Regions from separate parts of the Homo sapiens genome. Here region 1 is linked to region 2. Evidence: fine-mapped expression QTL. Tissue or cell type: whole blood. Region 2 holds a variant in brackets; the other region holds the start of a gene. All regions are shown on one strand. Distances are between the middles of the regions.

Evidence for each region. PIP is the estimated chance that this variant, and not a neighbour inherited with it, causes the effect.
Region 1: STARD3 starts here. The variant in region 2 is fine-mapped to the expression of STARD3 in whole blood (TOPMed, PIP above 0.99).

What each region holds. Positions count from the first base shown.
Region 1 is chr17:39,632,346-39,640,190 of GRCh38, forward strand. It overlaps STARD3 (StAR related lipid transfer domain containing 3), which reads left to right and starts at 4,799. Exons shown (of 15, transcript NM_006804.4): 1 at 4,799-4,886. PPP1R1B (protein phosphatase 1 regulatory inhibitor subunit 1B) reads left to right here. Exons shown (of 7, transcript NM_032192.4): 5 at 1,538-1,741; 6 at 3,262-3,381; 7 at 3,471-4,279. The coding sequence ends at 3,520. LOC124903998 (a long non-coding RNA gene) reads right to left here and starts at 4,945. Exons shown (of 2, transcript XR_007065749.1): 1 at 4,646-4,945; 2 at 2,293-2,681. RefSeq lists enhancers at 1-856, 2,944-3,567, 5,351-5,470 and a silencer at 4,741-4,810.
Region 2 is chr17:39,703,822-39,711,666 of GRCh38, forward strand. ERBB2 (erb-b2 receptor tyrosine kinase 2) reads left to right here. Exons shown (of 27, transcript NM_004448.4): 2 at 3,169-3,320; 3 at 4,500-4,713; 4 at 5,497-5,631; 5 at 5,992-6,060; 6 at 6,265-6,380; 7 at 6,519-6,660. Among named protein-coding and RNA genes, the nearest start is that of ERBB2, 7.7 kb to the left of the region's middle. RefSeq lists an enhancer at 973-1,845. The variant C/T (reference allele first, on the strand shown) is at 3,634.

The DNA of each region.
Region 1 (7,845 bases), 71 kb before region 2:
TCACTGTGGCTCACGAAGTGAACTCTCCTCCCCCGCTGGGGGAGAAGGAAGCTGCCTGGGCTGCCACCTGCTCTCCTGCCTTACCTCCCCCCACAGCCCTCATGGATCCTTCTCTACCAGGAGGGCACTGTTTTGTAGGCTTCAGTCCTTTTGTGGGCAAGGGAAGGTGCCCGGCAGGGTTGGGGCTTGTCAGGGAAGAATCGAGGGCCCTAGAGAGAGGGGCACAGCACTAAGTCTTAGCTTGAGGGGTTGTGCTCCAAGGCTGGAGCTCTCACACTTGGCTCAAGATGAAGCTCTGCCGCGTCCCCAAGGTCAGGGTAGGGTGATTTATTGTGCTTTTATTGCCTGGATAGCTTGCCCAGAGCCAGCAGGAGGTACTGGGCTGGGAGCTGGGGGCTGGGTGGGGCAGCGGGCACATACAAAGCACCCTCTGTGCCTGTCCCCGAGTTGGCAGGAGCATAGCACCCTGCTCACTGTGCCGGAGGTTTCCAGCCTGGCCCTACCCCTCTGGGCCTTCTGAGGGGAGGGGCCACTGGCAGACCAAGAAGGAACTGCAGCAACTCCCCATTCCCCACCCCCAGCCCCTCCTCAGCATCTTGTCTGTGGCCTGTGAACTTTGTGTCGCATATGTTCTAAGATCCTGCCAGCTCCTGCAGCCTCTCCTCAGTGGCCCCTCAACCTCTGCCATCCCCCAGAACCCCTGGCCTTGGCCCCTTTCTCTAACCCCTTGCTCCTTTCCATCTTTTGGAAACTTGTCTCCAGCTGCCCACACTGTTCCCTTCCCAGCCCTATCTGAGCAGGTCTTTGGAGGCTGGGGGGGTTGCTTTCTAGGTCACCGCAGAGGGAGCTGGGAACCTGGGGATGTGGGTCAAGATTGTGGGGGCCGCATCTGAGCATGCCGCATCCCCCGGCACAGACTGCACTGGCTGCAGACTATTATGTCCTCAGCCTCGGAATTGTTCTGTCCCTTGGAGCCCGGGGCAGGAGTATGTGGATTGGCATCTATGACTGGGCAGTGCCAGGGAGTGGGGACTATGCATCGCATGGGAGGTAGGATCAGGGTAAGCAGTGAGCCCTCAGCAGGCTGGGCACCCCCAAGAAATGGAAAGTGGCAAATCCCCAGGCCCTGGTTCCTACGCCCTGTGCCTTCTGCCTGGGCTTGAAGCTGGGAGACACTGTCTCCCGTACTGGGTACTTGGAAAATCAAGCTCTCCAGCCAGGGAATGTTAAGCTGCTGCTGTGCCCGCCTGGTCTTGCCCAGCCTAGTGCCCTATGGTGTGGGGGAGCTGCCTGGGGGCTAGCATCTTAGGACAGCTTAAGAGCCAAACATGATCAAATCTACCCCTGGCTGCCTCTGCCCTGGTCTGACACCCATCAGGCTGACCTGTCAACTTTGGCCTTTGAACTTGGGCCCCTGAGGGGGTATTCTCTGCCCCAGGCCTACGGGAAGGAGGCTGGGGGCTAGGCCACAGGCTATCTCCAGATCCATGGGCTGTGTCTAGCTGACCCTTGCTTTCCTCGGTCTCCTCTGTGCCAGCTGTGCAGCGCATTGCTGAGTCTCACCTGCAGTCTATCAGCAATTTGAATGAGAACCAGGCCTCAGAGGAGGAGGATGAGCTGGGGGAGCTTCGGGAGCTGGGTTATCCAAGAGAGGAAGATGAGGAGGAAGAGGAGGATGATGAAGAAGAGGAAGAAGAAGAGGACAGCCAGGCTGAAGTCCTGAAGGTCATCAGGCAGTCTGGTAAGCTGAGGGGCCTGTGACATGTGGATTAGCTGTGGGTCCTCCTTGAGTATACGAGGACGTCCCCTTCTAGTTCAGTGTCTCATACACGCAAACTGTAGTGACACCACAGGGGCCTCCCTGTCTTCTCGCTCCATGGGGTGCCCCGAACTCAGCCCTACCTGAGACATGGGTTTCCTCCATCCTTGGCTCAGTCCCTCTCCCAATCAGGTTTTCCCTAATAATTCCTCTCTTCCCTGAGAATTAAGGCCAAGGCCGTTTGGGGTTTGAGGCTAGAGCCAAAAGAGGACTTCCCACCTATGGCAGTAAGGGGGCGTGAGGACATTCAGGGATGGAGGACCAGGAGAGTCCAACACCCCTGTCACCTGCATTTCACCTACATTTTTGAACCTAGGATGTGGTCTCTGCTGGGGTGCAGAGGGCTGCCTCATTTACTTGCCCTCTCCAGGACTGTTGTCTGTTTCTCCTCTTTTTCCTTCCTAGGATGGAGTGGGAGGGTGCCCTCTAGTGTTTAGATGTAGAATTTAAAATTCAAGAACCAGCCCGGCCCATTAACCTTTTTAGTCTCATTATTTATGGGAATACTGAAGAGTCAACCACCCCTACTAGAAGCTGTCAGCTCTTCCACACAAACAAAAGGCCTTGGGCCTCCTGCCTGCATATCTGGCAGTGAAGAGATTGGCCATGGGGGCAAAAGCTGTTGCTGGGCTTCAGTCCCTTTGTGGGCAAGAGACAGCTGGAAGACCTGAATCAGTCCTCACTGAGACCCCTCCAAAACAGTGGAAGAGGGGTGAGAGGAGACTGTTCCCTCAGGAAAAGCAGCAGGTGGCTGGGTGCGGTGGCTCATGCCTGTAATTCCAGCACTTTGGGATGCCAAGGCTAGCGGATCACTTGAGGTCTGGAGTTCAAGACCAGTCCAGCCAACATGGTGAAACCCCATCTGTAATAAAAATACAAAAATTAGCCAGGCACAGTGGCACACACCTGTAATCCCAGCTGCTTGGGAGGCTGAGGCAGAAGAATCCCCTGAACCTGGGAGGTGGAAGTTGCAGTGAGCTGAGATCGCACCACTGCACTCCAGCCTGGGCAACAGAGTGAGACTCCATCTCAAAAACAAAAACAAAAAACCAAAACAAAACAACAAAAAAAAACAAACAAACAAAAAATGCAGAAGGGCACCGGGTCAAATGATAGTCCTATGATGGAGCAATATAAACCACCACGACTCCTAGTGGCTCCTGGGTGCTGGCGCTGGGCTGGGCAGGGTATTCACTATTACATCTTGTTTAAGGTAATCTACACAATTTCCCCCTTTCTATTTCCTTCAGAAAGGTACTAACTGACTTACGTAAGCCATATGGCTAGTTGCTGGGAGAGCTGTTCTAGCCCAGTTCTCTCTCCATGCTTCCATGATGCCCCTGGAAAGCTTAACCTCAGCCATCAGACACTTAGCTCACACTCCAGGACAGCCGGATGGATACGCAGAGCCTGTGTTCTTATCTCTTCTTTCCCATCCCCAGCTGGGCAAAAGACAACCTGTGGCCAGGGTCTGGAAGGGCCCTGGGAGCGCCCACCCCCTCTGGATGAGTCCGAGAGAGATGGAGGCTCTGAGGACCAAGTGGAAGACCCAGCACTAAGTGGTAAGGCTTGGGAGTGTGAAATGGGGAGGAGGGGCTGGGATCTTGGTGGGTGGGGCCAGGCCCTGAGTCCCTCTCTGCTTGCCTTTCAGAGCCTGGGGAGGAACCTCAGCGCCCTTCCCCCTCTGAGCCTGGCACATAGGCACCCAGCCTGCATCTCCCAGGAGGAAGTGGAGGGGACATCGCTGTTCCCCAGAAACCCACTCTATCCTCACCCTGTTTTGTGCTCTTCCCCTCGCCTGCTAGGGCTGCGGCTTCTGACTTCTAGAAGACTAAGGCTGGTCTGTGTTTGCTTGTTTGCCCACCTTTGGCTGATACCCAGAGAACCTGGGCACTTGCTGCCTGATGCCCACCCCTGCCAGTCATTCCTCCATTCACCCAGCGGGAGGTGGGATGTGAGACAGCCCACATTGGAAAATCCAGAAAACCGGGAACAGGGATTTGCCCTTCACAATTCTACTCCCCAGATCCTCTCCCCTGGACACAGGAGACCCACAGGGCAGGACCCTAAGATCTGGGGAAAGGAGGTCCTGAGAACCTTGAGGTACCCTTAGATCCTTTTCTACCCACTTTCCTATGGAGGATTCCAAGTCACCACTTCTCTCACCGGCTTCTACCAGGGTCCAGGACTAAGGCGTTTTTCTCCATAGCCTCAACATTTTGGGAATCTTCCCTTAATCACCCTTGCTCCTCCTGGGTGCCTGGAAGATGGACTGGCAGAGACCTCTTTGTTGCGTTTTGTGCTTTGATGCCAGGAATGCCGCCTAGTTTATGTCCCCGGTGGGGCACACAGCGGGGGGCGCCAGGTTTTCCTTGTCCCCCAGCTGCTCTGCCCCTTTCCCCTTCTTCCCTGACTCCAGGCCTGAACCCCTCCCGTGCTGTAATAAATCTTTGTAAATAACTGCTGAGACTCCTCTTTCAGGGGAAGCAGGAGGAAAAGGGAGGTAATGGGGCGTCCTGATAGGGAAGGCCGGTGGTCAACCAAGGGTTAGGGTTTTGACCCTACTGTCCAATCCTCTAGTCTAGGAGTCTTTCTGGCAGACAGCAGGCTCGGGGCACTCAGAGGAAGAACTACAGAAGTTCTAGCTGCTGCTTGGGATGGCTGAAGGAGGCAGGTGGGGTGGGGAAGTCCTTCTCGAATAACTGGATTCCTCCAAAGATTTCCCCATCCCCACAGGACTCCCCTCGGGAAATTCCCCTTTTTCCCTCAGTGCCAGGCCTGTGTGGCCTAATAACGACGGCCCTGGTCTTCTTCCCACTCCCCTACCCTTAGGTAGGCCCTTAGACTCCGGCCTTTGAGTCCGCTTCTGCGCAGGGCCGGGGCTGGAGGCGGGGCGAAGGGGCGGGGCCGCAGGCGAACGCAAGTCCCGCTTCGCTCTCGGGGGCGGACTCAGCGGCGGAAGTGGCGCTGCCGGAAGATCTTCTTCCGCTCTGAGGCGCTACTGAGGCCGCGGAGCCGGACTGCGGTTGGGGCGGGAAGAGCCGGGGCCGTGGCTGACATGGAGCAGGTGGGTCCCGGAGCGGTCGCTGGGAGCGGGTGGCGTGCGAGGGCCGTCTTCCGCCGGTCGAACCCGCTTCGCCGCCCGCTGTCCGTGCTGGGTTCCGTCCGACCCTTCCCACACCCGCTGCGTCTCAGGTTCCGCCCCCTTCCTCTGTCTGGCCTCGCGCCGCCCCGCGCGGGTTGGGGTCTCCAGCAATGACTCTTGGCGACCCCGCCTATCCTGGGGAGCCCGGGGAGGACGTTCGGGATCTCCTTCCAAAGCCTCCGTCTTAACTGAGGGGAGAGGAGAGGGTGAGGTGTCTGGGTGTTATGAGCAGGGGCAGGTATGGGGAGGGGTCGGAATCTGGGGTGAGAGGAAAACATCTACGCATTCCGGTAGCTCTGCGTCTCAGTGTCATCCCGTGTCTCCCCAACTTCCTTTCGAAACGGCCGTGAATAACTTCCTAATTGGTATTAAAAGGGCCCTTTGAAGTCTTGAGTTCTTAGAGGTGCATAGTACCATTGACACTCATTTCTAATGACACGTTCCCTCACCCCGCATTTTTGGGTTAGTCAATGTCTCCTGGTTTTCTTCGTACCGCTCTGACAGTCGGTCAAAGTCCCGCTTCACGTTTTCCTCTGTCGCCCAACCCCTCGCTCTGTACACTGAATCTCAGTGGTCTTATTTTCCCCCACGGCTTCAGCTTTACACCAACTAAATACCCAGATCCACATCTTCAGCGCAGCCCTTCCCTGGAGCTCCACGCTTGCCCATCCAGCGGCCATTGGGACAGCTCTGCTTCACATGGAGCTCACTGGGTCCAAACTTGAACTGGTCTTTTCCTTGCAGATTAATTCTTCCTCTACCCCAACCCAGCCGGAAGTCTGGTAATTTCCTTACACTTTCTCCTCTCTTTCAAGTCCCACATCTTAAAAGTGACCTAGTACTGCCAACTTCCTGAACATCCTTCAAACCTGGGCCAGCTCCATCTCTTCTGTTACCACGCTGTTGATGTATTGTCAATTCCCAACAGTCCAGCCCTGGCAGCTTGCAACCCAGTCTCCAAACTGTAACTCTTGTGATCCTTTTAGAACACAAGTCTTACGGTGCCAGTTCCTTGCTGATAACCTTTTTCTGGCTTTCTATTGCCTATGTGCTGAACCCCTAGCACAATTTACACAGCTCTCTGTGATCTGACCTAGCAGTCTCCTGTGTGCACCCTAAGGTCCAATAATACGGCACTGCAGCATGCGCCATGCCTACCCTTGCTGTTCGTATCTTCATGACTTTGCACACACCAGCCCCCGCTGCTTGGAAACCTCCTCCTTCTCTTGTCTGCTGGGCTACCTTCTACATGTTTTTCAGCGCAGGCAGCGCTGCCTCCGCCTAACCCCCAAGGTTAATTGCCCTTCTGTGTCCTGTAGCACCCTGTCCATAATAGCATAGTAGCTGAGAATACAGACTCCTGGATCAGACTGCCTGGGTTCTGACCTGTTTGGTAACCTTGATGAAGTCAGTGCCTCAATTTCCTCACTTGTAAAATGGAGGTAGGAATGTCTCTACTTCATAGAGTTGTGAGGATTGAATGGAATATTGTATGTTTAGGTCTTAAACCAGTGCTAGGCACAAGAATGCTCAATAAATTAAAGTGAGTTGCCTGGGTGCAGTGGCTCATGCATTAATCCTAGTACTTTGGGAGGCAAGGCAGGATGATCGCTTGAGGCCAGGGGTTTGCAACTAGCTTGGGCAACATAGTGAGACCCCATCGCTACAAAAATTTAAAAAACTAGCTGAGCATGGTGGTACGTGTGGGAGGATCCTTTGAGCCCAGGAATTTGAAGTTACAACGAGATATGGTTGTGCCACTGCACTCTAGTGTGAGGGACAGAGTGAGATCCTGTTTCTAAAATAAATAAATAAAAAGTTATTACTATTATGTAAGGACAACATAGTTCACCAGTTATGATTTTTAATTTCATAAGTTGCCTGAGGATGGTTGAAGTGGCTTACTAGTCATTGGATAGAGCCTGGCTCTTTGCCAATAAATAAAATGCTGGAGTGGAGGACACTGGGGGCAGGGTCTGGATTTATTGAGTGAAGATTCAAGAGTGAAAAAGGCTCAGACCTGGTCTGCTCAGGAAAACCAGTCTGGAAGTGTGTGTGTGTTACATGGCAAGCATTAAATCTAGAGAAATGTATAGATCTGGGAACTAGAGGGAGAAAAAGACCAGGGGCGGCTTCTGAGGAGCTGACAGTTAATGGGGCCTATAAAGCGATGGGAGGATTTTATCAGAGGGAGGCAGAGGCTGGAGTGGGCTCAGAGATCAGAAAGCTGGGTCCTCTGAACAGAGCTCCAGTAGATGGTGGCTGGGTGGGGGAACAGGGGAGACGGAGCTGAGGAAGACAGAGGCAGCGTCCTTTGCTGACGCTGGCAATTCCTTTCCTGTATTGGCCATGAGGAAGCATCCCTTGACTTGGGAGCCAGCAGGGACCATGCCTGGGGGCAACTATGCTCCGGAGGCCTAGTACCTGGTGTTTGGGACCAGGCCCCCTGGGTAGGGCCATTGTGCATGCCTTTGGGCTGGGCCTTCTTTGGAGCTCTTTTGCCTCCCTGTAATGCCCACCCTCCTTGCCTCCAGCTGATAGATGCTGACTCTTCAAGGCCAGGGTCAGATGGCCCCTCCTCCCTGTGGCTTTTCTGACTTCACTCATTCCAGCCTGGGTCAGATGATCCCTTCTCTGGGAGCCCACGGTCCTTTGTTCATTCCTCCCTGAAAGCGCTGATCACAGCATGGTATTATTTATCTGCCAGTCTTCCTCACCAGACCCAGAGTCCCTGATGGACCAGAACAGGGTCCTGTGGCCCCAGGACTTGCACTGTGTCCAGCATACTGTAGGCCCTTGGAACCCGCATGTTGCATTAAGTTGAGCTCTCACACAGCTAGACTTGTTAAGGGAGAGCGGTGCGGGGGAGATAAAAAATCCG
Region 2 (7,845 bases):
GTGACATTATGGGTCTGGGAGAGCTGAGCTTTGGGGACACAGGTCATTTTACTGTAGTATTCATGGAAACCAAGGGAAGTATTGGCTTTTCTGCTGTGAGCAAGAGGAGCAGCTGGGGCTGCAAGCTGGTGGGGAGGAGAGAACCCACCTGAGAGAAACCTCAGGACTGGGGTCAAGTCCTGACCACCAGAGTCCAGAGAGACATGAAGGACTGTGACCAGCTCTGAGCAGAGAGATGGATTCCATGACCTCAACTGGTCCCTTTTGTTCGGAGACTCGTGACTGGACTTCATTCATCCACTCATTCATTCATTCACTCAGCAGACACTTATCTAGCGCTCCCTGTGGCTGGTCCTGCCTCATACTGTCTTTGCTCTGGAGAATTGGAGGTTGGGGTTCCTGAGGGGCAGGGTCCTGGAGACAAGGACACTCCTGGGTAGAATTAGGACCTACCCCCCAGGAAATCAACGGGGACCAGGTGCCGTGGCTCACACCTGTAATCCCAGCACTTTGGGAGGCCGAGACGGGCGGATCACAAGGTCAGCAGTTCAGGACCAGCCTGGCCAACATGGTGAAACCCGCCTCAACTAAAAATACAAAAATTAGCCAGGTGTGGTGTCAGGCACCCGTAATCCCAGCTACTGAGGAGGCTGAGGCAGGAGAATTGCTTGAACCCGGGAGGCAGAGGTTGCAGTGAGCCGAGATTGCGCCACTGCACTCCAGCCTGGCGACAGGGCGAGACTCCATCTCAAAAAAAGAAAACCAATGGGACAGGGCAGATATGGGGACAATGGTAAGGAGATGGGAGAGTGGGAGGGAGGTGTCAGGAAGACCTTCTTGACTTCATGTAGGCTGGTGGGGGTGTTAGCCAGCAAGCCTCCAGTTCCCTGGGAACCGTTCTCAGGGTACCAATTTTACCACCTGTCTGCAAACACTTTAAGATTCTTAATCAGACTCAAATTGGCCACAAATCAGGTAAACAAACTCACTAGTGGGGTGGGGCTACCACCCGTTCTGACCCTCCAGCCCAACCCAGCCCAGCCACCCTGCCCTCCGTAGAGCCTGTGGTGTTTATCGGTGGCATTGGGAGAATTAGTGTGTATTTATGTTGGCGTGGGGTGTGGGGTGGATTTGTGTGTGTGCAGTTAGGCCTAGTGGAAGGAATGTGGGATCTGAAGGCAGGCCAGCCTGAGTTCCAGTCCTGCCTGTTGCTCACAAGCTTTATGAGGCGAGAGCTAACCCCTGCCAGCCTCAGTTGTCTTCTTTGCAAGATGGAGGTTGCAGCCCCAGTCTCTGGAGCATGTTATGCAGATCCACCGAGAGTGCCTGCCAGGCACACAGTAGGTGCTCAGCTCAGTTACTGTGGCGGCCCCCACTCCCCATTGTTGTTGTTTTCCTATTGCCTGGCGGCCACAGCTGGTATCCCTTGAAAAGGGCTACAGGGGGTGGAGTCGGACCCTGCCCCAGCCCTGTGGAGACCCTGGGCTTGGGCCAGGGCCTGGGGTCTGGGCCTGCAGACAGCTGTGTCTATAAAGCAGCTGAAGGGCTGAGGCCGGGGGAGGTCCTGGCAGCAGGGCGTTATTTTGGGCCTGGCCTGCCACCCCCAGCTCCTGTTTCTCTTGGGAGTCTGTTGGGGGAGGAAGTGTGGGGAAGAGGAGGGGGTGCAAGTGGGTGAGGCATGGAGTGGGGAGGCCTCCCTCAGGGACATGGACCCTTGAGTTCTATTTCTGTTCCTCCCTCCTGTTCCTCCCTCTTTGTCCTTATCTGCCTAGAGAGGTGGGAATAGAGGCCATTCTGAGTATCACTAGGAGACCACCAGTTTGTGGCCACTGGCCACTGGCCCAGGCAGGGAACCTGGGGGCTTGCCCTACCAGCCTCTCCCAGCAATCTGAAGGCAGGGGGTACCTCGTATTACCCCCTAGGATTTGACCTTAGGCTCCAACTTGCTGGGAGAGCAGTGCCTCTGGTGTCAGACCCCAAGCCAGCCCTTGTGCTGTCCCTGAATCTGCATGTAGCCTGTGGGAGGCGGAGCAGTGACCGGCAGGAATTCTGGGCAGCTCAGGCACCTGTGGGCCTGAGGGTGCCCTCTGCCCCCACCCTTCCGATCTCCTGGGCAAGACACGCCAGGTGATTCATCTCACCAGAGCAGAAAAACAAGTTCAACTGGGCACTTTAATCTCCCCTCACTGGCAGGCCTGGTGTGAGCTGCTACCCCGGCGCCCCTCACCAGGGGTGCTTTACCTCCTCTAGTATTCCTGACCTTAGTGGGCATTTCTGGTCTCAGGGATACCAGGCTGGGGTCCAAGTGGGCCAGGTGTGGCAGTTCAGCCCTATGCCCCATGGCTGATGGCTCGCGCTGGGCAGGTATGCAGGGCTGACGTAGTGCCTTTGTGGCAGCAGTTTCGTGGCACACATTCTGCCAGCTGGTTCTGGAGTCTTGCCCTGAGGAGGTGGCCAGGGTGAGGGTGCCAGCGCAGGAACCTTTGGCGCATGCTTCACCCTGGCCTGGGATCTGCAGCCTGGGTCCAGATGCCCACAACTGGAATCTGACGCTCCTTTTCTCTTCATGGGGGACTCCCAGAGGTCTCTGCAATGACCAGAGCCCCGGTTGTCCCATGCCTCAGCTGCAACTCCAGCTGACCCTCCTTCCCCACTCTCTGGGTGGCATTACGGGGGTGTGGATCCCTTGCCAAGAGGTTGGCATGTGGGTGTGCTGGAATGGCATAGGGAGAATGCACCGAGTTTGTTTGCTTGGGAGAGGGGCAGGGGGTATCCAGAAGATTCATGATTCGTCATCGCCTCTCTTGGGGGATTTTTACCCCTTTGCCCTGAGTTGTGCCTTTGGGACAAAGGAAGCCTTTCTTTGCCAGCCAACACCCTGTACTGGCGGGCGAGCTCCCCAGGGCTGGCACGCTGGGGCAGCCTCTGAATGCACAGGGTGGGCCTAGTCAGAAGAAGCCTTTCCCCTGAAATCCCTCTACTTCCCAAGCACGCAAGCTTTCTCCTGCTGTTAAACCTGCAGTGTGCAAGGGACATGGGCGGAGGGGTCCTTCAGTCAGGCTTCTCCCTGTCTGAGGTGGCATGACTTGGAGTGAGTTTGGATGGGGTGGCCAGGTCTGAGAAGGTCCCCCGCCAGTGTCCTCTGACCCATCTGCTCTCTCCTGCCAGTGTGCACCGGCACAGACATGAAGCTGCGGCTCCCTGCCAGTCCCGAGACCCACCTGGACATGCTCCGCCACCTCTACCAGGGCTGCCAGGTGGTGCAGGGAAACCTGGAACTCACCTACCTGCCCACCAATGCCAGCCTGTCCTTCCTGCAGGTGAGGCCCGTGGGCAACCCAGCCAGGCCCTGCCTCCAGCTGGGCTGAGCCCTCTGTTTACAGGTGGGTGGCAGAAGAAGGTGCCCTGCCCTTCTGTTTCCTCTCTTGTTGTGGTTTCTCAACCAGGAAGTCCTTTCTAACATCTAACCCCCATTCATTTTACTGCAGAATCAGTTGACTCTCTCTATAACGTGGCTGGCCGAGGTCATGTCTGGATGGGATGCGTCTGTGTTTCCGCTAAATCTTGTGCTCTCTTGCCAGCATGATCATGTCCCCTGTCCACCTGCTCCAGCCACTATCCCTCTCCCACTTA[C/T]AGCAGAAGAAAGGGCTGGTGAGAAAGGTGGATTACAGGCCCACTTCTGCCACTGACGAGCCCTATGAATGTGGCCTACACCCCCTTAGCTTCACTGGGTCTCAGTTTCCCTATCTGTATATTGGGAGCAGTTGTGAAGCTCAGAAGAGAAATGTCTGTGAAAAGGTTATGAACAGGAGGGAGAGTGGAAACCAACCTGCTGGATCGTGTCCACAGACCCTGGAATGGGGCCACATGCTTGGTTTGTCAAATTGCAGACGCCGGCCGGGTGCGATGGCTCATGCCTGTAATCCCAGCACTTTGGGAGGCCGAGGCGGACAGATCACTTGAGGTCGGGAGTTCGAGACCAGCCTGACCAACATGGAGAAACCCCGTCTCTACTGAAAATACAAAATTAGCCAGGCATGGTGGCACATGCCTATAATCCCAGCTACTTGGGAAGGCTGAGGCAGGAGAATCACTTGAACCTGGGAGACGGAGGTTGTGGTGAGCCTAGATCGTGCCATTGTACTCCAGCCTGGGCAACAAGAGTGAAACTCCGTCTCAAAAAAAAAAAATTTGCAGACGCCATCCCATCCAGGCCTTTGCTTTCACTGATGAAGAAACTGAGATACAGAGAGGGCAGGGCACCTGTTCGGAGTTTATGAAATGCCCCCCCACCATTATCTTTCTTGATCATATAAGAATCTGGTGAGGCAAGGTAGGGCGTGATCTTTATCTCTATTTTATCGTTTTATTTAAGCGGGAACAGGACTGCTCAGTGGCTGGGGGCCTTGCCCAAGATCTCCAAGTACTGGGGAACCCCAGGGAGGCCCTGGGGGGTGGCAGTGTTCCTATTTCAGCCCCACTCTGCTTCCCCCTCCCAGGATATCCAGGAGGTGCAGGGCTACGTGCTCATCGCTCACAACCAAGTGAGGCAGGTCCCACTGCAGAGGCTGCGGATTGTGCGAGGCACCCAGCTCTTTGAGGACAACTATGCCCTGGCCGTGCTAGACAATGGAGACCCGCTGAACAATACCACCCCTGTCACAGGGGCCTCCCCAGGAGGCCTGCGGGAGCTGCAGCTTCGAAGCCTCACAGGTGGCCTTCACCGTCATTGAAACCTTCTCTTGGTTATTCAGAGCTGACCAGGGCCACTGCTAACCAGGGGGAGGCTTTGTGTGCATTAGAAATGGTGTCCCTTCTGGGCAGACGCAGGCAGAGCCCGGGAAGACGCCCTCAGAAGATTGGAAAAAGATTCCCCTTCTTCCTGGGAAGTTGTAGCTTGCGTCAGCACATATAATTCAATCGTGAGAATGCAGGCTGGGTTTTTGCCCCCACTTGGCTGAGTGAAGTGTACAGTGAACAACCTATGTAACTATTTGCTGGCCCTGGAGCCGACTCTGCCCCAGAGTCTGGGTGCCAGGTGCTTTGCCCGCATGGCCCATTTCAGTCACGCTGCAGTCCTGTCAGGAAAAAATCAGTGTTATTCTCATTCTACATATGAGAAAACTGAGGCTTGCAGATATAAGGGCCAAAAGTTACACAGCTAGTGAGTGATGGGGCTGAGTTTCAGACTCCACAGTCTCTTAACCACCAAGCAGCATGCCCAGAGTAGAGGTGAGAAGGAAGGAGAGAGCTGCGGTCCACATGAGCATCTGGACCTAGCATGGACAACTCACTCCTCCCTGGCTCTCGCTTTGTTCTTGTTGCGGGTGTGGTGGTGGTGGGACTCAAAGACGGTAAAGATAGCTTTCTCTCCTCCCTGGGGAATCTGGGGGTTGTTTAAAAGGCCTGCTCCTCTTTTAGAAGGCAGGAGGGCCCCAAGGGAAGCAGAAGGTGACAGAAGGGGAAAGGGTCCTCTGATCATTGCTCACCCCACAGAGATCTTGAAAGGAGGGGTCTTGATCCAGCGGAACCCCCAGCTCTGCTACCAGGACACGATTTTGTGGAAGGACATCTTCCACAAGAACAACCAGCTGGCTCTCACACTGATAGACACCAACCGCTCTCGGGCCTGTAAGCCATGCCCCTCCCTGCTGCCTCTTCTCTCAGACAGCCTGACCCCAGCCGCAAACTCCCAACTTACAACCCAGTGCCTGCCCGCCACTGCCCCAGCCGCCTACACCACCCATTTCCTCCCTCTCTGTCCCTCCTGCCATCTCCCTGTGCCTCTTCATCTCTGGGGTTCTCTGTCTTGTCTCCCTCTGCTTATAGGTTGTGCCTCTGGTTTGGGGGCCTCTCAGCCTGTCTGGGTCCCTCCCTTGCTGTGCAGTTGGCCTCGTGGCCTCTGCTGCTGTTTGTGCCTCTCTCTGTTACTAACCCGTCCTCTCGCTGTTAGACATCTCTCTCACTGCCTGTCTCTGGTTCTGTCCTCAGGCCACCCCTGTTCTCCGATGTGTAAGGGCTCCCGCTGCTGGGGAGAGAGTTCTGAGGATTGTCAGAGCCGTGAGTCTCAGGGAGGCCTGGAGTCAGGGAAGGGGAGGGCTGGGGCCGGGTGGAATGCAGGTGTCATACAGGTGACATGGGAGGGGTGGGATAACAGGCTTGGGATGTCTCCCCTGGGCCAGGTAGTCTCCCTAGAAGGTGATGCTGATGAGGGTCTGGTGCCCAGGGCGCCACTCAGCCCTCATCCTGCCCTTTGCCCAACAGTGACGCGCACTGTCTGTGCCGGTGGCTGTGCCCGCTGCAAGGGGCCACTGCCCACTGACTGCTGCCATGAGCAGTGTGCTGCCGGCTGCACGGGCCCCAAGCACTCTGACTGCCTGGTATGTGCCTCTGCTTTGTGCCCAATGTGCTCTACCCCCCAGGATGCAAGGGGTGGGCACCCTGCCTGGTACTGCCCTATTGCCCCTGGCACACCAGGGCAAAACAGCACAGTGAAAGCCAGCCACCTGTCCCCCCAGGCCTGCCTCCACTTCAACCACAGTGGCATCTGTGAGCTGCACTGCCCAGCCCTGGTCACCTACAACACAGACACGTTTGAGTCCATGCCCAATCCCGAGGGCCGGTATACATTCGGCGCCAGCTGTGTGACTGCCTGTCCCTGTGAGTGCCAGGGAGAAACACAGTTTTCTCATTTTGGTGGGGAGGTTTGTTTCTGTAAATGGGAGCATATGGGGAGCACTGTCTGCATCTTGCTTTGAGAGCTGGTCATGACAGTTCCTGCCGAGCTGCCTTGTTCTTTCAACAGCTGTGGAGCAGGTGGCAGTAAGGAGAGGCAGCTAAGAGCCCAGACTTGGGAGCCAGACTGCCTGGGTTTGAAACCCAGCTCTATCAATTAGTAGGCACGTGACCCTCTTGCTGTGCCTCAGTTTCCTCATCAGTAAAATGGGGGCAAGAATAGTCCCAACTGCATAAGATGGTTATAACATTTGAAAGAGTTAATATTTGTAAAGCTCTTAGAACGGTGCCTGGTATGTACTAAGTGCTCCTAAATGTTAGCTTTTATTCTATAGCCTGGTGAGGTCAGTTTTACCTTTCGTTTTGTTTTTGAGACCGAATTTAGTTAGCTCTATCGCAGTGGCGCGATCTCGGCTCACTGCAACCTCCGCCTCCCAGGTTCGTGCTATTCTCGTGTCTCAGCCTCCTGAGTAGCTGGGATTACAGGCGCCCACCACCATGCCTCGCTAAATTTTGTATTTTTAGTAGAGACAGGGTTTCACCACGTTGGCCAGACTGGTCTCGAACTCCTGACTTCAGGCGATCCACCTGCCTCGGCCTCTGAAAGTGCTGGGATTACAGGCGTGAGCCACTGCACCCGGACTTTTTTTTTTTTGGCAGAGTCTCGCTCCATTGCCCAGGCTGGAGTGCAGTGGTGCAATTTTGGCTCACTGCAACCTCTGCCTTCCGCATTCAAGCAATTCTTGTGCCTCAGACTCTTGAGTAGGTGGAACTACAGGCATGCACCACCATGGCTGGGTAATTTTTGTATTTTTAGTAGAGACGGAGTTTCACTATGTTGGCCAAGCTGGTCTCGAACTCCTGACCTCAAGTGATCCACCCGCCTTGGTCTCCCAAAGTGCTGGGATTACAGGCATGAGCCATCGTGCCTGGCCTAGCTCAGTTTTATTTAACAGATCACCTATTTACTGATGGGCGTTTATGGACTGGGCTCAGACCTGGGGAACCTCTTTCCTCCTCTCACAGGAACAGGAGTGGGCCTTCAGATCCTGGCTGACTGTGTTAGGGAGAGGACAAAATGTAGAGCCAGACCATTTGGGTTCAAATCCT